7 linked regions of the Homo sapiens genome follow. The protein of the gene in region 1 purifies or fractionates together with the protein of each later gene. This does not show direct contact. Each region holds a gene or a part of one and is shown in the gene's direction. Other genes may lie near its edges. The genes, in order: PFKL, RELB, ZC3HC1, DDX23, ANG, MAP3K8 and LRRFIP1.

Evidence for each region.
Region 2: the proteins of PFKL (region 1) and RELB purify together in Homo sapiens (tandem affinity purification; one large-scale study listed by IntAct). This does not show direct contact.
Region 3: the proteins of PFKL (region 1) and ZC3HC1 fractionate together in Homo sapiens (co-fractionation; one large-scale study listed by BioGRID). This does not show direct contact.
Region 4: the proteins of PFKL (region 1) and DDX23 fractionate together in Homo sapiens (co-fractionation; one large-scale study listed by BioGRID). This does not show direct contact.
Region 5: the proteins of PFKL (region 1) and ANG purify together in Homo sapiens (co-immunoprecipitation; one large-scale study listed by IntAct). This does not show direct contact.
Region 6: the proteins of PFKL (region 1) and MAP3K8 purify together in Homo sapiens (tandem affinity purification; one large-scale study listed by IntAct). This does not show direct contact.
Region 7: the proteins of PFKL (region 1) and LRRFIP1 purify together in Homo sapiens (affinity purification with mass spectrometry; one large-scale study listed by BioGRID and IntAct). This does not show direct contact.

The regions. Positions count from the first base shown.
Region 1 is NC_000021.9:44,324,053-44,327,873, forward strand, and holds the end of PFKL (ATP-dependent 6-phosphofructokinase, liver type), read left to right. Parts: intron 1-438; coding exon 439-603; intron 604-803; coding exon 804-865; intron 866-1,100; coding exon 1,101-1,212; intron 1,213-1,908; coding exon 1,909-2,008; intron 2,009-2,106; coding exon 2,107-2,212; intron 2,213-2,662; coding exon 2,663-2,810; 3' UTR 2,811-3,321; downstream 3,322-3,821. UniProt on the Homo sapiens protein: Catalyzes the phosphorylation of D-fructose 6-phosphate to fructose 1,6-bisphosphate by ATP, the first committing step of glycolysis.
Region 2 is NC_000019.10:45,000,269-45,004,263, forward strand, and holds the start of RELB (transcription factor RelB), read left to right. Parts: upstream 1-1,195; 5' UTR 1,196-1,311; coding exon 1,312-1,417; intron 1,418-2,680; coding exon 2,681-2,728; intron 2,729-3,995.
Region 3 is NC_000007.14:130,044,875-130,048,374, reverse strand, and holds part of ZC3HC1 (zinc finger C3HC-type protein 1), read left to right. Parts: intron 1-2,465; exon of another isoform or gene 2,466-3,500. UniProt on the Homo sapiens protein: Required for proper positioning of a substantial amount of TPR at the nuclear basket (NB) through interaction with TPR.
Region 4 is NC_000012.12:48,829,256-48,832,209, reverse strand, and holds the end of DDX23 (probable ATP-dependent RNA helicase DDX23), read left to right. Parts: intron 1-23; coding exon 24-132; intron 133-893; coding exon 894-1,068; intron 1,069-1,517; coding exon 1,518-1,741; 3' UTR 1,742-2,454; downstream 2,455-2,954. UniProt on the Homo sapiens protein: Involved in pre-mRNA splicing and its phosphorylated form (by SRPK2) is required for spliceosomal B complex formation.
Region 5 is NC_000014.9:20,691,764-20,694,683, forward strand, and holds the end of ANG (angiogenin precursor), read left to right. Parts: intron 1-1,267; exon of another isoform or gene 1,268-1,391; intron 1,392-1,716; exon of another isoform or gene 1,717-1,783; 5' UTR 1,784-1,801; coding exon 1,802-2,245; 3' UTR 2,246-2,420; downstream 2,421-2,920. UniProt on the Homo sapiens protein: Secreted ribonuclease that can either promote or restrict cell proliferation of target cells, depending on the context. Endocytosed in target cells via its receptor PLXNB2 and translocates to the cytoplasm or nucleus.
Region 6 is NC_000010.11:30,432,744-30,436,983, forward strand, and holds the start of MAP3K8 (mitogen-activated protein kinase kinase kinase 8), read left to right. Parts: upstream 1-1,440; 5' UTR 1,441-1,635; intron 1,636-1,893; exon of another isoform or gene 1,894-2,005; intron 2,006-3,829; exon of another isoform or gene 3,830-4,240.
Region 7 is NC_000002.12:237,630,587-237,634,086, forward strand, and holds part of LRRFIP1 (leucine-rich repeat flightless-interacting protein 1), read left to right. Parts: intron 1-3,500.

The DNA.
Region 1 (3,821 bases):
AGGCCCGGGTGAAGGGGCTCAGCTCCCTGCCATAGCCACTTCCAGGTCCAGGGGGGCCCTGCGTTGTTCCTCGCTACTGTGATGAGCTCAGATGGGGAGACTGAGGCGGGAATGTCCCTGCGCCCCAGTGCTGGGTAGTCTAAGAGCAGCGCCTGGCCTCTGTCCAAGGGTGCCAGGGACACCCCTGCCCACTCACAGCCAGTGTGTGTGCAGGCTGCTGTCCACTGTGCCCTGGGGGGTGGGGTCGCCTGGTTGAGAACCCCTGGTCCTGTGGGGCCCAGGTGGGAGGTGGGCCCAAGCCTGGTGCTGCTGGCTGTCTGGGTGCGTCAGCCCCAGGCTGGCTTTGGAGACACAGGGCTCCCTGCAGGGTAGCCATGCCGACGGCCTACAGGGAAGGGTGGGCACGTGGAGGACCCCCGACCCCCCCTTGTCCCCCAGAGCTGTGACCGCATCAAACAGTCTGCCTCGGGGACCAAGCGCCGTGTGTTCATCGTGGAGACCATGGGGGGTTACTGTGGCTACCTGGCCACCGTGACTGGCATTGCTGTGGGGGCCGACGCCGCCTACGTCTTCGAGGACCCTTTCAACATCCACGACTTAAAGGTGAGCCCAGCCCAGCCCCTGCTGCGGCAGACCTGCCGGCATGCCAGCCTGGGCCCCAGACACTCAGGCCGGCCAGCGCAGGGCAGGGCCCGGGCAGGTGGGACGCGTAGCCCAGTGCTCCTGCTGGCCCCGGATCGCCGGTCAGCCTGGAATTCCCTCCCCACAGTCCTCCGGCTCATCCGTGTCCGCCCCTCCCGCAGGTCAACGTGGAGCACATGACGGAGAAGATGAAGACAGACATTCAGAGGGGCCTGGTGCTGCGGTGAGGCTGCCGTGGGTCCCTGGCCACAGCTGCGCGTCCAACTCTCGGGGCTGGGGTGGGGCTGCTGAGGAGCGGCTGGGCAGGAGAAGGCAGGAGGGGTCCTTGGAGAGGGTGGGCCAGGGCGGCTTTCCTGGGAGCTGCCACTCCCTCTCCCAGGCCTGGCCCAGCGGGGACTCAGGATCGGGGGGAGACCTGAACTCGTTCCCGCCGACTCAGGCCCTGCTGCCCCTCTCAGGAACGAGAAGTGCCATGACTACTACACCACGGAGTTCCTGTACAACCTGTACTCATCAGAGGGCAAGGGCGTCTTCGACTGCAGGACCAATGTCCTGGGCCACCTGCAGCAGGTGTGGGGCAGGGGTGAGGCTCTGAGAGGCCTGCCCCTCTTTCCTGCCACCATCTGTCCCCGGCCCCAGGGGTCCCAGCCCTCACGGGCACCCACGGGCACTCCCGGCAGGCCCTCGGGCACGTGTGCCCTTCCCCAGTGAGGGGACCGAGGCCTGTATCTAGGTGAGGTCTCATTTCAAGAAGGGGTGGGGCTGGGGCTGGAGCCGGGGCCCGAGCCAGGGCATTCACATGCTGAGCCGAGCTCCCCACCCCTGCCAGGCCTCCCGCGGCCACTTCCGCCGAACCCCTCACCTAGATCCCCGCATGCTCCCTGCCTTATGGTGGCCCTGCAGGAAGCCCGCGTCCTGGGGTTTTCTGAGCCAGGGAGGGGAGTCAGGGTGGCTGGGCATGGGGCCCGAGGTGATGGGGCCCGAGGTGGGGCCGCTGGCTGCCGATGCAGGGCCCAGGAGTCACTTGACTTGGCCAGGGGCAGCCGACTGCCGGCCTCGGGAGGCAGCTTCTGGCCTGGACTTGGAGCTGGAGAGAGCAGGCAGGGTCCTCGATCGGGAACAGACGGGAACGGTGCACGGGTTGGAAGGAATGGGTGTTCACAAGCTGCCTGGGAGGCTCCCCGTGGGGATCCTGTCTGCACTGGCGTTGGCCTTGGCCCAGGCAGCCCAGGGGAGTCCAGGGAACCGGGCCTCACCTGTTTCCAGGGTGGCGCTCCAACCCCCTTTGACCGGAACTATGGGACCAAGCTGGGGGTGAAGGCCATGCTGTGGTTGTCGGAGAAGCTGCGCGAGGTTTACCGCAAGGGTAGGTGGTGGGTGCGACCCGAGGCCTCACTTTGCCCTCCCCTGGCTCCCTGGGGCAGGGCCTCACCATGGAGGGCTGCCACGTGCCTCTGTTTGCAGGACGGGTGTTCGCCAATGCCCCAGACTCGGCCTGCGTGATCGGCCTGAAGAAGAAGGCGGTGGCCTTCAGCCCCGTCACTGAGCTCAAGAAAGACACTGATTTCGAGTGAGTTCCACCAAAGCCTCGTGGAGGCGGGTGGGGCTGAGGGGTGGCCCAGACCTTCCCTGAGGCAGGTGTGCCAGGCCCAGCCCCACTGGCACCCTGACCCCGCAAGGCCTCCTGGGCCCCCATGCCCAGGTCCCCGCCAGGCCGTGGAGAGCAGGGACCATGCCCAAGTCTTCTGAGCACAACACTGGGCAATCCTTTCGGGTGGGCATGGGGGCACAGCGGGTAGCCAGGAGTGGGCACGCTTGAGGGCGGCTGAGGCTGACTCTGTGCTGTGCCTCCGAGGGATGGGGACCCCAGACCTGTCCCAGCTCCACGGATACCGAGATGTTCAGACAGAGGGGCATGCACAGGCTGCAGGGTCGGGGGGGGTGGGGGGGCTGGGGACGTGGCTGAAGAGCTGCCCTGACCCCTGACTCCCCATCATCCTCCCATCCCCGTCCTGCACAGGCACCGCATGCCACGGGAGCAGTGGTGGCTGAGCCTGCGGCTCATGCTGAAGATGCTGGCACAATACCGCATCAGTATGGCCGCCTACGTGTCAGGGGAGCTGGAGCACGTGACCCGCCGCACCCTGAGCATGGACAAGGGCTTCTGAGGCCAGCCATGCCCACGCCCCTCCCCAGCCCCCACCCATGCCAGCGCAGCGCCAGGGCTCAGATGGGGCCTGGGCTGTTGTGTCTGGAGCCTGCAGGCAGGTGGGGGCTGCGTCCCTGCTCAGCCCATCCCCTGCCTCTATCCCTGGCCACCTGCCAGGCCTCCCTCGGGCTGGTGTCTTGAGACCAGCCTGCCAGGCCCTCCAGCAGGAGGACAGAGTGCCCTGGGGCATCCACCTTCCTGCCCAGGGGACGTGGCGCTGTCGGTGTTTGGAGGCTGCTGCCCCCTGGCTTTGGCGCCCCATGGGCCCTCAGCGTCTCCCCATGCTGGGCTCACTACATGGGCCAGCCCTTGCTCTACCTGGCCGGTAGGCTGCTGGCGCCTAGGTTGTGTTGAGAGGGGGATGCCCCTGGCCCTGCCTCACTGTGACCTGCTCCTGCCCACGTGCAGCACCTGTCACCTTTTCTAGAAATAAAATCACCCTGACTGTGGGGTGCATCGGTCTCCGGAGAGCACAGCCTGCAGAACTCCTCAGAGAGAGGGGGGAGCAGCACCGAGCGGCCAGCCCAGTGGGCAGCAGCCCCAGGGGTGGAGGGCCCTCTGGCCAGTGCCTGGGCCAGGTCAAAGGGACATGTGCCCTGAGAGGCCACAGGTGCTCTCCAGGACTCCCTGGGGGCCACCAGGGTGACCTGAGCCCCTCCTGGTCCTCCCCTGGGGGCAGAAGGGTACAGCCTCACTCCTCTGTCTCCCCAACCTCAGCCTGAGTGGGGGTCTCCAACCTGCAGGCTGGTGGCTGGCTTGAGCCAGTATCCAGGAGACATTGATGGTGGACACGCAAGAGGGGAAAAGAAGGCAGCGCAGAGCTGCGCCCACCAGGGGCTAGGGCTGAGTCCTGCAGGCGGCTACGGGGTGGTGGACGCCCTGCTTGCAGGATGCCTGTTAACCTCAGCGTCGAAGCCTGCGCTCTGCATCATGAACGTGGGAGGTGCTTGCCCAAGAGGGCTGCTTCCTG
Region 2 (3,995 bases), on another chromosome or scaffold:
TAATAGATCACCTAGTCGTTCTCAGGAATATGAGAGGCTTAGGAATGTGATCTAGCCAAATGGCTGCCCCTCTTTCAGCCTGAGTCCCTTCTGCAATAATCCTATCATATGCTTCTGGCGCTGGTGATAGGGATGAGCTCAGGGTTTAGGCACACAGCTCAGGATGTATACGGAGGCTACACTGCTGCCATTCGCAGACTGAATAACTGAGCTTTTGAGCTCAAAGTGGTCTGGGCTATTTATGGGTAACTTTCAGGGGCTGCAGGGAGGAACAAACCAATAAATAAAACATCCATGCATTCATCCAATAAACTTTTTTTTTTTTGAGATGGGAGTCTCGCTCTGTTGCCCAGGCTGGAGTGCAGTGGCACGATCTCAGCTCACTGCAACCTCCGCCTCCCAGGTTCAAGCTATTCTCCTGCCTCAGCCTCCGGAGTAGCTGGCATTACAGGCGCACACCAACACGCCCAGCTAATTTTTGTATTTTTAGTAGAGATGGGATTTCACCATGTCGGTCAGGCTGGTCTCGAAATCCTGACCTCGTGATGTGCCTGCCTCGGCCTCCCAAAGTGCTGAGATTACAGGCATGAACCACCGCGCCCGGCCTCCAATAAACATTTATTGGGCACCTACGGTGTTCCAGGCGCTGGTCTAGGCGTTGGGGTTACAACAACGCACAAAACATAAATTCTGAAGCTGACACGCTAGCTTTAAACGTTCCTTAAATATCTTCATCCTCAATTTACGGTTGAGGAAACTGAGGTGTAGCGAGACCTTGGAGGTTTCCGAAATATTATTATGGATGGCAGGTGTAGAGCCCTGCCAACCTCTCGATCCTGAAGCTCCCCTTCCAGCCTGAGAAACGGCAGGTTCAAGTCCCACTGGGAGACCAAAGCGGGGAGCGGCTCAGTTTGCCGGCTTGCTCAATGGGTAAGGCGTGATGGCTCTAAGCAGGCCTCAGTTGTCTCGTCCAGAGCAATGGGCAGCGACGCCTGCCCAACCCCTCCTGAGCGCCCAGCCTCCCTTTCCCGGCCGGCCCCGCCCCCGCGATCACGTGACGCGTGGGGGTTTTCCCGTTCCCCAGGCGTGACGTCACGGCGGGGTGCAGACCAATGGGCGCGCAGGCCGGCGGCGCCGGGGAATTCCGCCGCCCCGCCCCCGCCCGCCGCCCGCCCGGCCCGGCCCCGCGCCCCGCGCAGCCCCGGGCGCCGCGCGTCCTGCCCGGCCTGCGGCCCCAGCCCTTGCGCCGCTCGTCCGACCCGCGATCGTCCACCAGACCGTGCCTCCCGGCCGCCCGGCCGGCCCGCGTGCATGCTTCGGTCTGGGCCAGCCTCTGGGCCGTCCGTCCCCACTGGCCGGGCCATGCCGAGTCGCCGCGTCGCCAGACCGCCGGCTGCGCCGGAGCTGGGGGCCTTAGGTAAGCGGGGCTGGGGTTCAGGAGAGGGGTCTGGGGCGGGGCTGGAGATGCGGGGATTCTGGCGGTCCCGGAGTAGTCTGGGGGTTCCTATGGGAGTCTAAGGGTTTCGCGGGGGCAGAGTGAGGGTTCCTGAGACACTGTATTAGGGCGTAGGAAGAAGGCAGAGGGTGATGAGGGGGTACGGCCCGAGGTTCGAGCGAGGCGTCCCGCTGTAGAGTGAGAGGGGGCGGGGCCTGACCCTGAGGCAAAGAAGGGGGCGTGGCCTGACTCAGAGAAGGCGGAGCGAAAGCTGCTCTTGGGCGGTATCGGGGCGGGGCCGGGCCCAGAGAGGGAGAAGAGGGGCGGGATCCGACCCGGACTATGAGAAGAGGGCCGGGCCTGACTCAAAAAAGGAAGCAGGGCCCTACGCTGAGGGGTGAGGGGGCGGGGCCTGGCCGTGAGGGCAGGAAGGGGGCGGGGCCTGAGTTGGCCGAAAGAAGGGGAAGGGGCGGGGCCTGACTCTGGCCGAGTGGAGGGGAAGGGCCTGTTACCCAAAAAAGCAGGGCGGGGCCCGACACAGAGAATGAGGAGGGGGTGGGGCTTGCCTCCAGACGGAGAAGCGGAGCCTTGACATTGAAAAAATTAAAAGTGGTCTGACCCTGACAGGAGGATGTTTTTTTTTGTTTGTTTTTTGTTTTTTTCTTTTGAGATGGAGTCTCGCTCTGTCGCCCAGGCTGGAGTGCAGTGGCACGATCTAGGCTCACTGCAACCTCTGCCTCCCGGGCTCAAGCAGTTCTCCTGCCTCAGCCCCCCGAGTAGCTGGAATTACAGGTGCCCGCCACCACACCCGGCTAATTTTTGTAGTTTTACTAGAGACGGGGTTTCACCATGCTGGTCAGACTGGCCTCGAACTTCTGACCTCAGGTGATCCGCACGCCTCGGCCTCTCAAAGTGCTGGGATTACAGGTGTGAGCCCTTGTGCCCAGCGGGATGGGGACTTTTTAAACTGAGATTGAGATGGGGTCCCCTCCAGGCCCAACTTTAAGGGAGAAAAGGAGCGGGCCCTGAGTGTGATGAAGGGTGGGGCGAACCACAGAAACTAAAGGCCAGGACCTGTCCATGATTTAGCTGGTAAGCCTGGCCAGACGCAGGGGGGCAGTCAGGGCGAGGGGCCTGATCCAGAGGGGAAGGGCTAGAAGAGGAAGGGGTGGGGCTTCCTTGGGATATTCTCTGGTCCTCTGGCTGCCCCCCATCACCTCCTGAGACGTTTCTCCTTCTCTGCAGGGTCCCCCGACCTCTCCTCACTCTCGCTCGCCGTTTCCAGGAGCACAGGTGAGCAGCCCTCCACAGTTCCTGCCCACTCGCTCATGCAGGATGAGGTTGGGAGGACTCCACAGAGATGTCTCTGTTTGGGGGTTCACGAGGTCCACCTCAGCTTTCTCCTGACAGGGTGCATCCCTCCCTGCCAGTTGAGATGGGCCCCCTAGGTTTTCTTACCTCTTGGACTGTTAAGAGCGTGACAGGTGGCCGGGCGCGGTGGCTCACGCCTGTAGTCCCAGCACTTTGGGAGGCCGAGGCGGACGGATCACGAGGTCAGGAGATCGAGACCATCCTGGCTAACACGGTGAAACCCCGTCTCTACTGAAAATACAAAAACAAAATTAGCCGGGCGTGGTGGCGGGCTCCTGTAGTCCCAGCTACTCGGGAGGCTGAGGCAGGAGAATGGCGTGAACCTGGGAGGCGGAGCTTGCAGTGAGCCGAGATCGCACCACTGCACTCCAGCCTGGGAGACAGAGCGAGACTCCGACTCAAAAAAAAAAAAAAAAAAAAAAAAAGCGTGACAGGTAAATCTTACCACCTATCCATGCGCAAAGGCTTCTTTAGAGATTCACTGTGGCTTAGTAGAAGGTAATCACTGCCATCCTGGGCTTTGGAGCTGGGGTTTACATACTGCTGTCATCGCCCCTCCCTGTGTGAATGTCTGCAAGTCAGTTCCCCAGTTCAGGCCTCAGTTTTCCTCATCTGTAAGATGGACAGAATAACAGTGCCTCTCTTTCAGGGAAATTGAGAGTATTCAATGAATTGATACAGGTACACTTTCCAAGCAGTATCTGGCACACAGTAAGGGTTCAGTAAGTGTTAACTGTTAGTGGTATAATAATAATAACGATAATAATTATTATTACTAGACAGTCTATAACAGTGGTTCATTTTTGGTGTGTGTGTGGGTTTTTTTTGTCTGTTTTTTGTGTTTTTTTTTTTTTTTTTTTTTTTTTTGAGACAGAGTCTCGCTGTGTCACCCAGGCTGGAGTACATTGATGCGATTTTGACTCACTGCAATCTCCACCTCCCGGGTTCAGCAATTCTCCTGCCTCAGCCTCCTGAGTAGCTGGGATTACAGGCACCCGCCACCACAACCCACTTTGTGTCTTTAGTAGAGATGGGGTTTCACCATGTTGGCCAGGCTGGTCTTGAACTCCTGACCTCAGGTAATCCGCCCGCCTCAGCCTCCCAAAGTGCTGGGATTACAGGTGTGAGCCACCTCGCCTGGCCAGACAGTGGTTCTTTTTTTTTTGAGACGGAGTTTCATTCCTGTTGC
Region 3 (3,500 bases), on another chromosome or scaffold:
AACTAGGAAAATTGTCTCAAAAGAAAAATAAAATAAAATAAAACAAAACAAAACAAAATTAGCCAGGTGTGGTGGTGCTCACTTGTAATCCCAGCTACTCAGGAGTCTGAGGCAGGAGAATAGCTTGAACCTAGGAGGCAGAGTTTGCAGTGAGTCGAGATCGCGCCACTGCATTCCAGCCTTGGCAGCAGAGCAAGACTCCGTGTCAAAAAAAAAAAAAAAAAAAAAAAACAACTAGGAAAGGGTCCACTTCCAAACTCAGTCATTGGCATACTGTTGGCAGGATTCATTTACTTGTGTCTGTTGGACAGAGGGCTTCAGTTCTATACTGGCCATTGGCCAGAGATGTCCCTCCCCACTTGGTTCCTTGCTATGTGGGCTTCTCTAAAGGAAAGTTCACAACTTGGCAGCTGACTTCCATCAGAGTGAGCAAAGGAGAGAACAAGATACAAGCCAGCCTCATTTTGTAATCTAATCTCAAAAGTGACATCTCATCATTTTTGTCATATTTTATGCATTAGAAGCAAGTCACTAGGCCAGCCCATACTCAAGAGGAGCAGATAACACAAGGGCATGAATATAAGAAGGCAGGGATCATTGGAGCCACCTTAAAAGCTGTTCACATCACCTTGCTTTGAGAGAAGTCTTTAGTAGCTCCAGCTGCTTTTTTTTCCTGCCAAGTTTGCACCCCTACCCGTGTGTGTGTGTGTGTGTGTGTGTGTGTGTGTGTGTGTGTAGACAAAGTCTTGCTATGTTGCCCAGGCAGGTCTCGAACTCCTGGCCTCAAGCAATTATGCTGCCACAGCCTCCCAGAGGGTTGGGAGTACAGGCCTGAGCCGCCAAACCTGGCCCCGAATTTCTGTCTTATAAACTATTAACAAGGTCTTGACCTAGGAATCAAAAATTAACAAAATCTCAGAATTTAAGACCATAAAATAAGCCAAATCACACACCTTTTTTTGATCAAGAAACTAATACTGGCTAGGCATGGTGGCTTACGCCTGTAATCCTAGCACTTTAGGAGGCCAAGGTGGGCGGATCACCTGAGGTCAGGAGTTTGAGAGCAACCTGGCCAATATGGTGAAACCCTGACGCTACTAAAAATACAAAATTAGGCCGGGCGTGGTGGCTTACACCTGTAATCCAAGCACTTTGGTTTGCTGAGGCAAGTGGATTACGAGGTCAAGAGTTTGAGACCAGCCTGGCCAACATGGTGAAACCCTGTCTCTACTAAAAATACAAAAATTAACCAGGCATGGTGGCACATGCTTGTAGTCCCAGTGACTCGGGAGGCTGAGGCAGGAGGATTGCTTGAACCTGGGAGGCGGAGGTTGCAGTGAGCCGAGATCATGCCACTGCACTCCAGCCTGGGCGACAGGAATGAGACTCCATCTCAAAAAGAAAAAAAAGAATGCACAGTTAGCTGGGTGTGGTGGCATGCGCCTGTAATCCCAGCTACTCAGGAGGCTGAGGCAGGAGAAATTGCTTGAACCTGGGAGGCAGAGGTTGCAGTGAGCCGAGACCATGCCACTGCACTGCAGCCTGGGTGGCAGAGAAGACTCCGTCTCAAAAAAAAACTTATACTGGAATATTACCCAAATGAAAAAGTAAGCACATACCAGCTATCACATTGCATGTTTCACGAAGAGACATTAAACGTTATGTCATAAGTTTATTTAGAAACATACCTAGTGTGCTATATGCCTGACTTCAAGAATTTGATCCATTGTTTTGTTTCCTTTTTTCCCTTCAACTTTTTTTTTTTTTTGAGATGGAGTCTCATTCTGTCATCTAGGCTGGAGTACAGTGGTGCCATCTTGGCTCACTGTAACCTCCACCTCCTGGGTTTAAGCAATTCTCCTGCCTCAGCCTCCCAAGTAGCTGAGATTACAGGCGCCCGCCACCATGCCTGGCTAATTTTTTGTATTTTAGTAGAGATGGGGTTTCACTGTGTTGCCCAGGCTGGTCTCAAACTTTTGAGCTCAGGCAATCCTCCTGCCTTGGCCTCCCAAAGTGCCAAGATTACAGGCATGAGCCACCATGCCTGGCCTTTTTTTCTTCAACTTTTATCTTCAGTTCCGGGGTACATGTGTAGGATGTGCGGGTTTGTTACATAGGTAAACGTGTGCCATGGTGGTTTACTGCACAGATCAATCCATTGCCTAGGTATTAAGCCCAGCATCTGTTAGCTATTCCTCCTGATGCTTTCCCTCCCCCAACTCCCACCTCCAACAGGCCCCAGTGTATGTCGTTCCCCTCATGTGTCCATGTGTTCTCATCATTCAGCTCCCACTTATAAGTGAGAACATGTGTTTGGTTTTCTGTTCCTGTGTTAGTTTGCTGAGGATAGTGGCTTCCAGCTTCATCCACATCCCTGCAAAGGACATGATCTCGTTCCTTTTATGGCTGCATAGTATCAAAGAGATTGTGAGCTCAAACATCCATCTTAAGCCGTTGATGTCTTTTTTTTTTTTTTTTTTTTTTGAGATGGAGTCTTACTCTGCCACCCAGGCTGGAGTGCACTGGTGTGATCTTGGCTTACTGCAACCTCTGCCTCCCGGGTTCAAGCGATTCTCCTGCCTCAGCCTCCCAAGTACCTGGGATTACAGGCTCCCACCACCATTCCTGGCTAGTTTTTGTATTTTTAGTTTCACCATGTTGGCCAGGCTGGTCTCAAACTCCTGAAATCAGGTGATCCACCCACCTCAGCCTCCCAAAGTGCTGGGATTACAGGCGTGAGCCACTGCACCTGGCCCAGTTGATGTCTTATAAAGGAAAGTGCAGCAAATGAGATCCAAAGTACAAGTCATCATAATTAGTAATTGCCACTTGTTTTCCACTGAAAATGGCAAATTCTTCTCTGGGCTGTCATTTTGTCTCCTATAGACCATAGAGGTTGTGAAGCTGAGGATACTCTACTCCAACATGGCCAACATGGTACTGATGGGTAGCTCTGTGAAAGGAGCAGAGACTGAAGGCGGAAGAAATGTGGTACCACACCACGTCTTCTGCTTTTCACTACTTTATTCCCTGTGTGCAAGGACAGAAAGACTTACATGGTAATTTTTTACAGTGATTCTTAAAAATTTTTAAATTACAGACTTACAGAAAGGTTGCAGAGATTACAAAGAACCTTTTTTCCCTGAGCTATTTGAAAGTAAGCCACCAAAGTGATGTCTTACTACTCCCAAATATTTCCTACAAACAAGGACTTTGTCCTACATAACCAGAATGCAACCATCAAAATCAGAAAATTGACATTGATAAATTACTACCCTCCAATCCTCAGACCCCAGTTTTTCCATCAGTTATACTAATAACATTCTTTATAGTTGAAGTATCCAGTTGAGAATCACACAGTACATTTAGTTGTCATGTTGCTTTATTCTCCTTTAATCTGGAACATTTCCTCAGTTTTTTCTTGAATTTCATGATCTTGATACTTTTGAAGATTACAGAACAGTTATGTTGTAGAGTGTATGTCAATGACATTTGTTTGA
Region 4 (2,954 bases), on another chromosome or scaffold:
TGTTTTTCTCCTCTTCCTTCCAGGAAAAAGCTGCTGGCAATCTTGGAGCAAGGCTTTGACCCACCCATCATTATTTTTGTCAACCAGAAGAAGGGCTGCGACGTGTTGGCCAAATCCCTGGAGAAGATGGGGGTGTGTCTGGCAGGGGAGAACAAAGTCTAGCCTCTGTGGCACTGCTTTCTGAATCTAGCAGGGCCCCCTAGGCTCTTCCTTTCAAGTCTCACCCTTTCTTTAGCCTGTCCAGCAATCAACAAGTTAGGACCAGGGTGAAGGGTGGTTTGAGGGAATAAAGAGAATGGAATCAATTGCTGGGACCCCCTGTCTGCTGCAGTAATGCCAGCCAAAGCTGCCTTGGGTCTTCATCCTGGTGAGGTGGAGCCAGGGAAAGGTTTGAGACCCATATCCTGGCAGTCTGAGGATGTAGAAAAGAGTAGGTGAAAACTGCTTAGGTACGTTGAGAGGAGGTGATATGGTCAGAAGGGAGCTGATAATCAGTGTCCTTTACTCCTGTCACTGGTGCTTGAGGGGAGGGGTGTGTCCCTGTCACTCAGCTCTCCAACTTCCTTAAACTTCTTGATCCCTGCTTTCTACCCTGATCTCGCCCCTAATTCTCTTTGAGGACTTTTCATCTGTCTGGCTCCACCGCTCTCCCAGCTGTTTTGCCTTTGACCTTACTCTGTGTGTCCCTGCCACACCACACCTTTTTCTCTCATCCCTCTCTTCAGCTCACTTGTTCTCTCCTTCTTTCACTGCAATCATTCTCTTGTTTCCTTTCCTTTCTCGTACTCTGCTGCTCTCTCCAACCCTCCCTTCATCTGTGTCCCATTCCTCTGAACTCCTGTGTCTCTCCTTGATTGCATTGCTCACTCTTCACTTCACCATTCTTCCAACAGTACAATGCTTGCACACTGCACGGTGGAAAAGGCCAGGAGCAGCGAGAGTTTGCGTTGTCCAACCTCAAGGCTGGGGCCAAGGATATTTTGGTGGCTACAGATGTGGCTGGTCGTGGTATTGACATCCAAGATGTGTCTATGGTTGTCAACTATGATATGGCCAAAAATATTGAAGGTAAGTTCCAGGGAAAGCAGCTTCAATCCAGGGTGAAGTCAGATTCCTTATGGTGTCCCACTGGAAGTCAGGGTGCTGTCCATGGAAGGCTGTTACTGCCTCCCTCAGTTCCAAGTCTGGGATTGCTTGCTCCCATGAGAAGCACTCCTGTCCTTTATCTTACCTGGGTTTGTTGTCCCAGCAGCTGGGATGACACTTGTGTCCTCAGGAGTGTGAAGAATGAAGCTAGGCAGCTGTGGGTCTTAGTGTGGTAGGGACCACAGTCAGTAGGAGGACAGGGGAGATGGGCACCTGGAGAGGGCACTGTGGGCGCCTCAGGTTCAGGCAGCATGTGCTGTATTCCTGCCTTTGGAGATGGGGTGGGAAGGATGCCTCTAGAAGTGGAGGCATCAGACACGGCTCCCCAGGGCATCTGGGCTATGCTGAGTGACGTTCTTCCCATTCCCCAGATTACATCCACCGCATTGGCCGCACGGGACGAGCAGGCAAGAGTGGGGTGGCCATCACCTTCCTCACAAAAGAGGACTCTGCTGTGTTCTACGAGCTGAAGCAAGCTATCCTGGAAAGCCCAGTGTCTTCCTGTCCCCCCGAACTAGCCAACCACCCAGATGCCCAGCATAAGCCAGGCACCATCCTCACCAAGAAGCGCCGGGAAGAGACCATCTTTGCCTGACACAGCACTCTTCCTGTGGGCTGAGGGCATCTCCAAAGCTGCCTGATGCCTGTTTTTCAGAACCCTCACATCCCTCTTTCCAGGTCCTCACTCTTGGGATATGGGGGCTTAGGAAAACAATCCAACTCCCTAGCCCAGACCCTCAGGTCAGGAGGCCTGCGTGTGGGGCTGCAAAAGGAGAGGACGACGCTGTCGGAGGCAGGGAGAGCAAATTACCACAGCTTCTTGGCCCAGTTCTGCCCTTCTTTGCTTTGGGATTGCACTGGGCCATCAGCTCATGCCAGGCTATGGGGGCAGCCAGTTGGCATTGCTCCCCAGACTGAACAGAAACCTGGCCGCCGGATGGGACCTCCTTTGGCACAGACTTGACTGTGTAACTGCATAAACTGCAGTAGCATCATTGCCCTAGATGCCCCAGGAGACCTGGCACCATGAGGATTACAGACAGTGGAATCTTACTGTCATCTGGACAGCTGTTTTCCTGTTTGGATGGTAAAGGAAGTTGAGAGTCTTTAGACCTGTGCACAGCCCCGCACCAAGGGGTGCTGTATGCTCTAGGCATCCCCTCCCCCAGGGGATTTTCTAAGTAGATGGGGGGACACGGTGAACTGGCTGTGTCCATCTTTGTCACTGAGTGAAATCTCTGTTTTCTATTCTCTGAGAAGATAAGTTTGTATGTTCTGAGAATAAATACATGAATATTAAGACTGTTAGATCTAGTTCTAGTTAAACTTCCCAGCTTCTCCCTGGCAGGAGGGACACCACTGGGTGCGGGGTGGGTTGGCTTGGAAAATGAGAGACAGCCACATTAAGAGAAGAGTAGAGGGGTCTCTGCTGATAGTCTTGAGTCTGTAGGTGGACTTGAGAGGAGATGCAGAAGCCACGCAGGACTGTAATGCATCTTCCGCCCCTGCTCTAGCCTCGCGTAATGTGTGGCCCTGGCCTGGACACCCTCTAGGGAGCTTTAGGCAAAGGTGAGAAAGGAAAGCAGTTGTGAAATTTTGGCAGGTGAGGCAGTTGGAACCACTCTGCCGCTGTGTGCCCAACGCCTGGTCTCGGGAGCTTTGCTTGTGGCTCCCTAGTTGGACCCATTGCTCCTGGGAGGGGATGGTGCAGAACGGGTGGACCCAGCTGTATCAGGCTGTGGTGAGAGGAACGCAGGGCTGCAGTCCTCCCCCCATACCCCTCTTGTTCACATGCTCTTCTTACCCCA
Region 5 (2,920 bases), on another chromosome or scaffold:
TAAGTTCATAGATTATAATTTGTAATGGAATCAACACCAAATGCAAATTAGAAAGAGAGCCCACTTTGCTCACCCAGTCACGTCTTCCCATGTAACCATAGAACATTGGGGTCCTGTGTCTTTCTAGATCCACAGTCTTGCTCTCAGAACAGGCTAGCCACACCACAGGCCTAGTGCCAGGACCCATGGCCTTTTTTTAAGCTCAGACTCCCTTCTGTGAACAGCAATATCCCCACAACTTGTACAACATTGGTGCTTCCTGCAAGGGCTACAGAACTATTTGATACGAAAATGTTCATTGACTTACACACAAGAGAAGCACAAAATAAAAAATTAATAATTAATTTAATGTCTTTGAAAATGTACCATTTATTTTTACATTTGGGGTCATAAGAATTGTATTACACTTAAGAATGCAATACAATTTGAAGATCAGATTTTTCTCCCTTTGTGAGAATTTCTCAGTATGTGTGATGACTACCAAGAAATCATAGCCAGTCATAAATTCAGTGAGTTACTCATAAACGAACAAGAACCACCTACTTCTTGGGGAGGTAGGTCTGCTTCCCTTCAACTCAGGATACAACTGCTTTCAACTGCTTTCTTCACATTAGCTGACTAATTAGCTAGAAGCCTGTCGTAAACAATTTTATGGTTGACTCCTTCCCTGGGCTCAGGGTTCCCTAGAACAGAGGTCCCCAAATCCCGGTCTGTGGCCTGTCCGCCTAAGCTCTGCCTCCTGCCAGATCAGCAGGCAGCATTAGATTCTCATAGGAGCTGGACGCCTATTGTGAACTGCGCATGTGCGGGATCCAGATTGTGCACTCTTTATGAGAATCTAACTAATGCTTGATGATCTATCTGAACCAGAACAATTTCATCCTGAAACCATCCCCCACCAATCCATAGAAATACTGTCTTCCACAAAAATGATCCCTGGTGCCAAAAATGTTAGAGACCACTCCCCTAAAACTCTCTTCTTAGCTCTCACCTCCTGTATTACTATCTCATCTCAGTACATTGAAGCCCCCATCTTTTCCCCATGGATGCCTCATTTCCTATTAGGGAGGCATTTTTTTATTTTTTGTTTTTATTTTTTTCCGAGACGGAGTCTCGCTCTGTCGCCAAGGCTGGAGTGCAGTGGCGCGATCTCGGCTCACTGCAAGCTCCGCCTCCCGGGTTCACGCCATTCTCCTGCCTCAGCCTCCCGAGTAGCTGGGACTACAGGCGCCCGCCACTACGCCCGGCTAATTTTTTGTATTTTTAGTAGAGACGGGGTTTCACCGTGGTAGCCAGGATGGTCTCGATCTCCTGACCTCGTGATCCGCCCGCCTTGGCCTCCCAAAGTGCTGGGATTACAGGCGTGAGCCACCGCGCCCGGCCGTCATTTGGTATGTCTTAATGTGCCTCAGGACCTAGCACAGTCCCTGGTACCCAGTAGAGACCTATGTAATGTTCATTATTCAATTAATAAATACATGAATTAAAGAGTGAGAGTGGATTTTGTAATGTTACGACTGATAGAGAAATACTCAGTGATTCTAAGGGATGGGGAAGAACGGTTGGAGCTAGAGGTTGTGCTCAGGAAACTATTAAATAGACGTTCCGCAGGAAGGGATTGACGAAGTGTGAGGTTAATGAGGAAGGGAAAATAGAATATAAAATTTGGTGGTGGAAAAGATCTGATTCATGATGCCGTGTCAGAGAGCAAAGCTCCTGTCCTTTTGGCCTAATTTGGTGATGCTGTTCTTGGGTCTACCACACCTCCTTTTGCCCTCCGCAGGAGCCTGTGTTGGAAGAGATGGTGATGGGCCTGGGCGTTTTGTTGTTGGTCTTCGTGCTGGGTCTGGGTCTGACCCCACCGACCCTGGCTCAGGATAACTCCAGGTACACACACTTCCTGACCCAGCACTATGATGCCAAACCACAGGGCCGGGATGACAGATACTGTGAAAGCATCATGAGGAGACGGGGCCTGACCTCACCCTGCAAAGACATCAACACATTTATTCATGGCAACAAGCGCAGCATCAAGGCCATCTGTGAAAACAAGAATGGAAACCCTCACAGAGAAAACCTAAGAATAAGCAAGTCTTCTTTCCAGGTCACCACTTGCAAGCTACATGGAGGTTCCCCCTGGCCTCCATGCCAGTACCGAGCCACAGCGGGGTTCAGAAACGTTGTTGTTGCTTGTGAAAATGGCTTACCTGTCCACTTGGATCAGTCAATTTTCCGTCGTCCGTAACCAGCGGGCCCCTGGTCAAGTGCTGGCTCTGCTGTCCTTGCCTTCCATTTCCCCTCTGCACCCAGAACAGTGGTGGCAACATTCATTGCCAAGGGCCCAAAGAAAGAGCTACCTGGACCTTTTGTTTTCTGTTTGACAACATGTTTAATAAATAAAAATGTCTTGATATCAGTAAGAATCAGAGTCTTCTCACTGATTCTGGGCATATTGATCTTTCCCCCATTTTCTCTACTTGGCTGCTCCCTGAGAGGACTGCATAGGATAGAAATGCCTTTTTCTTTTCTTTTCGTTTTTTTTTTTTTTTTTTTTGAGATGGAGTCTCACTCTGTCGCCCAGGCTTAAGTGCAATGGCACAATCTCGGCTCACTGCAACCTCTCTCTCCTGGGTTCAAGTGATTCTCCTGCCTCAGCCTCCCAAATAGCTGAGATTACAGGCATGCACCACCACACCTGGCTAATTTTTGTGTTTTTAGTAGAGACAGGGTTTCACCGTTTTGGCCAGGTTGGTCTTGAACTCCTGACCTCGGGAGATCCGCCCACCTTGGCCTCTCAAAGTGCTGGGATTACAGGCATGAGCCACTGAGCCGGGCCACTTTTTCCTTATCAGTCAGTTTTTACAAGTCATTAGGGAGGTAGACTTTACCTCTCTGTGAAGGAAAGTATGGTATGTTGATC
Region 6 (4,240 bases), on another chromosome or scaffold:
GGTAGCTATGTTGCCCAGGCTGGTCTCCAACTCCTGACCTCAAGTGATCCTCCCGCCTCGGCCTCCAAAGCGCTGGGATTACAGGCGTGCGCAACCGCGCGGAGGCAATCTAGAAACTGCAGAGGGAGCACGGACCTGGGCACTGGGAAGAATAGGGCGTGGACTTGGAGTGTGACCGCGTTTGAATCTGGGTTGTGCCTGGGACACCCCACCTCCTGGGCCGTAGGTGGGGGGGGAGAGAGAGAGAGAGAGAGAGAGAGAGAGAGGATGTCGACCTTACATGGCTCCTAGCTCTCCGCGCTCTAGCCGAATGCCTGGTTCCTAGTGGGTGCTTGATACGTGGGAAATGTAGGGGGAGGGGGTGGCGGGGCATTGGGAATGTCCCGCAGAGTGGATTTCGGGAGAGTGGCGCTTTTCTCTAGAACTCTCTTCCGGTTACACCTGGAGTAAAAGCTTGACACTCTAGAAGGAAAACCCCAGATGAGCAGCTAGGACTGAGGGTTAGCGGTAGGCGGGAGCGGGGAGATAGTACAAGTACGCTTCCTAATGAGGCGGTGCCGCAAAATAACCAATTTTAATAAAGACTGCAGAGAAGAAAACCAGGTTCTGCTGGCGGAGTGCACAGGCTCCCAGCCGAGCGCCCAACAACCAGGTTCCGGGCCCACCCTGCCGCAGCCTCTTGGAAATCTCTAAGTTGGAATGTGTGCGTGCGCACCACGGGTCACTGCCCTCTTTGTGTGTGAATTTGAAGCGAAATCTGGGCGAGGCGGGGCCGTGCTACTAGCAATCGGACCCACAGTCGCGGTTCCAAGAAGCCCCGAAGCTTCCCCGGCTTCCCGCAGCACTGCTGGGAGGGCACACGGCGCCTCTGTCCCCACCCCAGAGCGTGGGGCGCGCGGAAAAAGGTCTGGTGACTGCCCTCCCCGCCGCCCCCCGGGAGCGTGCCCTCCCGCCGGACCCTGGGACTCCAGAGAAGCGCCGAGGGCGCGAGTACACTAAGATATACGACCTTCCCTGGGGACCGGGAAGGGCACAACCACCTCTTGCAACTCCGCCACTAAGACGCCTTGGGTCACCAGGCCCGGGGGAAAACTCGTCCCCGTCCCAGGCTCTCGATTCGGGCCGCAGCTCACGTCCCGCGCTCCTCCCTGCGCGCCGCTCTGCTCCTCCCTAGTCCCGCCTCCAGCTCCGCCCGGGCGCCCAGAGGGCAAATGAGGGGCGGCGGGGTGGCGGGTGGGGGGGAGACGCGGAATTTCCCAGCGCGGGGGCTCTGGCTTACCCTGCAACCGGGCAGTCTCTTTCTGTTTACGGAGAGAAAGGGGAAATGGAAAAGTCGGGGAGGCGGTGGCTGGCGTCCGCTGCGCCGCCCCTGGGCAGGCTCAGACGCCGTGAGTCAGGGGCAGAGCAGGGCGGTCTGAGCGTGCGGGCGACGCGGGTCTCACTCGTCCGCTCCGCTCTGGACTGCGCGCCACGCTCTGGGGTCCGGCGCCCTGGTTCCTGCTTCTGCCGCTGCCGCCGCCGGATCCCAGTGGCCCGGCGTGCTCGGCTCCCACAGGCCTGCAGCCAGCATCGCACCGAACCTTCGGGGGGCCGCGGCTGGAGCGCTCGGCCGGCGTGGGAGCGCCAAGGCCGCAGGTAATCCAGGGTTGGGGGTCTCCGGCGTGTCTTTCGGGTCGCGTCCCGCCTGGGTGCCCCGGGGATTCCCATGCAGAAATGGAGGGTGCCCCCAGCAGAGGGGAAAACTCTGGCGTGGGAAGAGGTGGGGGCGTGCCCACAGCTGCGCTCGCGGGTCGCCGGCTGCACCAGGCACAGCTGGAAAGCACCTTGCGCAAGGGTCTCACGGGGTGCAGACTCGCGACTCCTCCCCCTTCCTCCTCCTTCCCGTATCCGCAGCGCCAGGGCAGTGCTGGTCTGGGCAGTGCGCGGGGAAGCGGGGACCCGCTGTCACTGCGCCTCCCGCTGCCGACGCCGCCTGGACGGCCGCACTCTCCCTGCCCGAGACCCGGTGAGTGCAGCTCGGAGGCTGGAGGACCCGATCCTCCCAAATGCTGGGTGCTTTGATAATTTATAAGCCTTTTAGGCTCCCTTGACTTAGAGAACCAGGAGGAAAGGAGTGGGAGTGTGGGTTGGCGGAGCCCAGAGACTTGTGAATGGCTGGAACTAAATTCAAGTTTGTAACCCGGACTCTATCCCATGACTAAAGAGGTCATAGCAGAACACGAAGGCTGGGCTTTTGGTCTAAGAAAGAATACTAGGAGAAAAAAAAAGTTATTTTCACGGAAGTTGTTTTCGAGCGATAGTGCATGATCAGGACTCTGAAATTTTTCTAGCTCTGGGCGGAGAAGGACGCCTAGGGATTGTCTCCATAGTTAACAGGGGAAGGCCACCGGCTGCCTGTAAGAGAGAAACGTTGCGATGCTTGTCTATTTCACTTTTGGGAAGACAAGATTAAAGGCTGCTCTTGATAAAAAACAGGGACAGAAAGGCTCTTGCAGTTGCTTTACATACCTGTGGCCTGAGTCGTTTGTGCCAAGGAGAGTGTAATCCACTTCCAGCTGACGCCCCCAGCTCTCTGCGACGGATTGAGGTTTGTGTGCAGGACGTCTGGCATACGGCCCATGAGGACTTTGTCGTGTAAAGCAAATGGGAACGTTGAGGCATGTAGAGGTTTTGAAGCAGAGTGTCGGTCCTTCCTTCCATACGCCTGAAACGCATAATCCGGGGCTTTTTGAGAGCAAAAACATAGTCAGAAATGTGCCCTGAGGGAGAATGTACTATTTTGGCACACATATGTATATATGTATATATAATTTTTAAATTTTTTTTGAGAGGGGGTTTCACTCTTGTCGCCCAGGCTGGAGCGCAATGGCGCGATCTCGGCTCACTGCAACCTCCACCTCCCGGGTTCAAGCGATTCTCTTGCCTCAGCCTCCCGAGTAGCTGGGATTACAGGCGCCCGCCGCCACGCCCGGCTAATTTTTGTAGAGACAGGGTTTCACCATGTTGGCCAGGCTGGTCTTGAACTCCTGACCTCAGGTGATGCACCCTCCTTGGCCTCCCAAAGTGCTGAGATTACAGGCATGAGCCACTGTGCCCGGCCTAAAAAAATATTTTAAATGAGAAATAACACAAGTAATAGTCATTCTTTGTTAGGCAGAAGCATATGCTGTTATGCTGGCCATTTTCATTCACACTTGCCAGGAAACACTCACATTTTGTTTCTGTATATGGAGGCAGCCAAGAGTATTATGTTAATGTTTAGGAAGAGAATTTCCTCGTGATTTTATTGCTGATTTCTGAAATAATTCAGTGTAACTAATTTTGACTGTATTTGCACATCTCTCCAATTCCAAAAGCTGGCATAATTTTCTGTTTGGTTAGGAAGTAGGAATTTTATGAGGACTTTTATTGTAAACTGTGTCAAGGGAAAAATCATCTTATACTAAACGTCTTTATTGCCAAACTAGAATACCTTCACAATCTGAACTTTCTCTAGATGGGCACAGATCATGAATAACTCAGAAACCATTAGCATATTGTGTGCTTAATTAAGGCTGGAAAGTGCTGAGGCTTTTTGCAGGCGCAGTTAGCAGGCGAACTGGTCAGCAGGGTTTCTGGGGAACGTAGATTTGCGTGACAGGGGCCCTGTGTTGCTAAGGAATTACTGCAGGCACTGAGAAAAGTCTCAGCGTCAGACACTCCTCCACCTCCCGGGTCCTGCTTCCCTCCCTCTCCCCTTTCCAGGCAACTCACAGTTTAGGGGTGTGGTTGTGTGTGTTCAAGCTCTTGGGTTTTACATATAAATGCCTGAGACTTTTCTGCAGGGTTTAAAAACTAACATCTTGTCTTACAGCTCTTTTAGGATTTGTCTTTTAGAATCTCCAGTCCTCACAGGAAAACCCCCCAATTAAAAAAATAAAAGAATAAAGAATAAAAAGAATACCACTACTACTATAAAAAAAAAAAAAATCCTCTAAAATTTGTCTTCCCAGATCAGCAGAGTGAATTTGAACTGTGTGGACTTTTTTCCTCTTTCTTTCTTGAGTCATGTTAGTACTGAGAACTTTTTTTTTTTCTGTCAAATCATCTGTTTGATAAATAAGTCCAGGAGACTTGGATCCTTTCAACCCCTGAGGCCCTAAATTAGGCTGTTTTTTTTTTAACCTCTGTGTTTCCAGTAAATTCGACAAGCAGAAACTGCAACTAAACGGCTCAGTAAAACCGAAGTCAAATGTTCCTC
Region 7 (3,500 bases), on another chromosome or scaffold:
CTGGAGGAAGTGGCATTTTGAGTTCTTGAAGGCTGTATGTACCAGTCAAGATGCTTTGGCTGCTGGGACAGAAACCCTGACTGGACTGACATTGACAAGGGGAAGTATATTGGCTGGAGCACAGCAAGCCCGGAGGCAGGGCAGGATTCCCCGCCAGCCTCACCAGTGGCTCCGGCCTCTTTTTCCCACAGCACCTGCGCAGCTGGTTGGGCTGGGCCATCCTCTGTGGGTGGCCTCATCCTCAGGCTGACTTGCTTCATGGAGGCCAGCTGGCCTTGGCTTTCCCGGGCTGCCACTGTGGAGCCCACACACCGTCTCTTCTGGTGGCTCTCTCCAGAGAGCTAGCAGTATCTCCCTGGTAAACTTTCATGAGTCTGTCTGGCCACTCCTGCACCAAGCTCTTTGACAAGGACCATGGACTTAGGGGCTCAGTGCCTGTGGCAAAGGGGGGTGGGTCTACCCTGTGACCTGTCAGACTCATCCTGGGACTGGGGAGAGCCGGCCTCCCTGAAACACTTGGGAAGGTGGGGGCCTGAATGGAAACTGGGGAGGCTTCAAGGAAGTGGGAGGGAGTGGGCTGCCACTTGGGCCTGGCACCCAAGAACATGCCTTCTGGAGAGTAAGTGGAAAATTCTGGGCTGAGGTCATTGGGAAGCCTGAGTCACCTGGCAGGGACGTGGGTTCCAGTTCGCTGGAGCGAGGGGAAGAGCTAGGCTGCCCTGTGCAGGCAGGGCTTTGCACTCTTCTGGGTAGAAGCAGGACTCGTGGTGGGGGCAGCCTTTGGAGGGTGCATTTCTGCTTCTGCAGCCGGTGTCCTGCTTCCATGTGATGGTTTAAACTCTAGGCAAGCGTGTATAGTAAAGGGAGTTATTTGCAAATGCTGTATTATCGCAAGTCAATTATTTCTCACTCTCTTGTTGCAGTGGAATTCAGGCGGGATGTTATCAGGAGAAAGGTTTAGTACGCACTTGCAGAAGCTCATTAGCACCAAAGGCATGAGCTGCGCCTCCCACTTCTGGGGAGGGGTGTTTCCAACGCAGATAGATTTTCCTCTCCTACCGCATTTCACATTCTACTGGTGCATTTTGGTAGCATCCCAAACTTCTCATTCAGCACTCTGCAGCTGAGTAAAGCGATACTGGTCTCACCATGCAATTCAAAGTATTGCTCTCAAATGAAGAATGTTTTTCCCAACAGGAACAGTCATTTGCGCAGGCTGCATTAGGAACTCACCGTGGGGCCTTGAGACAGTGCGGTGAGCTTATTATCCCCTGGTGGTGCCATAGGTACCCCTTCCTCACCCAGCAGGACGGAGGCCCTCCCCCCATAACTGTTTCTGCAGCCTCCTCTCCAAGCTGGCCCCTCTGTGGCCTGCGGCCTCGGGCCCTGATCCATGGCAGGGGCACTGCTGCCCCACCCGGCTGCTTCACCGGCCCCAAGTTGACTCGTGGGCCTGCGGGTGCTGTTGGTTCAGGCCTCACAGCCACCGCCTTTCACTTGAGCCACGGCCACACAGGAGTCCAGTTGCGGAGAAGGGGTCGCACTGCCCCCAAGGAGTCCAGTTGTGGAGAAGGGGTCACACTGCCCCCAAGGAGTCCAGTTGTGGAGAAGGGGTCACACAGCCCCCAAGGACTCCAGTTGTGGAGAAGGGGTTGCATTGCCCCCAAGGCAGCCTGCAGCCATCAAGTAACCATTTTGTGAGGTCACAAAATGTCCCCCAGGCTTGTTTCAAGATGCAACCAATTCTGTGGTACGTTTCCTGCTCCGGAGCTCTCTGCGGGCCAGGCTGAGGCCAACTCCTGCCGAGACCACCTCCCTCCCCAGCCCTTCCCTGACTGGCCTGCCCCCCTCATGCCCCTGCTGGGACAGGGCTCACATCCAGTCCTGCCATGGGCTCTGCTTCTGGAACCCAACATAAAGCCATGCCCCTTGTTTCAGGTAGTTCGTAAATATCGGGTCTTTTCATCCTAAGTCCCCCTTTCATTCATCTTTTCTCCCTGTCCTTCCCAAATAGCCCTCCTATATCAACCTGTGCGGAGGGAGCCTGTCTCTCTTCTCCTCAAGGCTGTTGGAGAACCAAGCTGGGGATGGGGTGCACGTGTTCTTTTCCAGAACAGCCCAGAAGTGGGGTTCAGTGTGGAAACTTCGCTCTACCTCTCTCCAGCACTAACCTGACCTGGCTCCTCTGGGGTGGAGAGTCCAGGACTGAGCCCAGCTGCAAAGATGCAAATCTGGGTCCCCAATGCAGTCCCTTGCCCTCTGGTGAGGTGACCCTGGGGCCAGAATTCACCTGCACGCAACCAAGATGTCAGACTTGTCCCTAGGCCTATTTCACTTGATTTGAAAGTGAATTTCATGACTTTTTTCTCTATGAATTTGCTTTTCTGAGGCTGGCCAGCAGATTGCACACCAACTGAGTGCTGCTGGACACTGGTTTGCCATTGGGGCTGGGCCCTGCCCCTTTGTTCCACAGGAGTTGGGAGAGGTGAGGGGCGTTCAGTGCCCGGCAGGACACAGGACTGTCCAGCCTGAACAACATCCTGCCTCCAGTTGGAACCCAGCCGCAGTGGAGTCACTGAGGGCTGTTCTGCAGCTGATTCTCCTAAGCCAAACACCCATCTTGGCAGATCGTCTACAAGGTTTTAGGAATGTGACAAGACTGGTGTTCCAGACGGATTTTTACCAACAGTCTGAGCTGTTGGAGGGCGTGAACAATGTGCCTGTGACCTTGGGCTGTTTGTGCGATTCCCAAAAGATGCTTCTGGGTTTCTGAGTCCACAGAAAACTCAGCTGTGGACAGGCCTGCTGGTCCCCAACGGCCCTGGGCCCCACCCCACAGCTATTTCTGTCAGAGGGCCAGCTGTCTCCCTTCTTCCTTTTCTGGGTGACTCTTGAGCCACTCGTTGGCCTGGTACTCAGGGTTGGGATGTGTGTGTGGAGAACATGACCTGGCTTCTAGCCCTGCCTGTCCCCCGTGAGCCCTGCCCGTCCCCAGTGAGTGTGAGACGGGAAAGGAGAGAGGGGCGAATGGAGGTTGCTTCTAAGACCCAAGGTGTGCCAGGTACTCTGGAAGCTTTACTCCCATAGTTTGTTTAAATCCTGTGAAAAGAGTTCCGAGTCTCTCTGTTTGACAGAGAGAAAACAGACTCAGAGACACCATGGGACATGGCTGAGGCCACCTATTAATTAGGGGCTGCCAGTTCATGGCCCAGGCTGCTTCCTGGATCAGCCCCTCAGCTCCCTCCAAGACCCCATTCAGGCTATGTCCTGCAGGCAAGCCACCTTCTTCCTATCCCTGGCACATGTCGTCCCCCACTGACCTGTGAACCACCAGGGGTGACATTTCAGGAGAGAGAGTCCCATATCTGTCTCTGCCTTACTGTATCTCTCATCTTCTTTTTCCATCCTTTCATCTTTAAAAAATTGATTTTTATTTCATCAGAGTAATATATGTTTTTACCCATATTCTCAGGCCGTTCCCCACACAGTAGGCTGGGCAG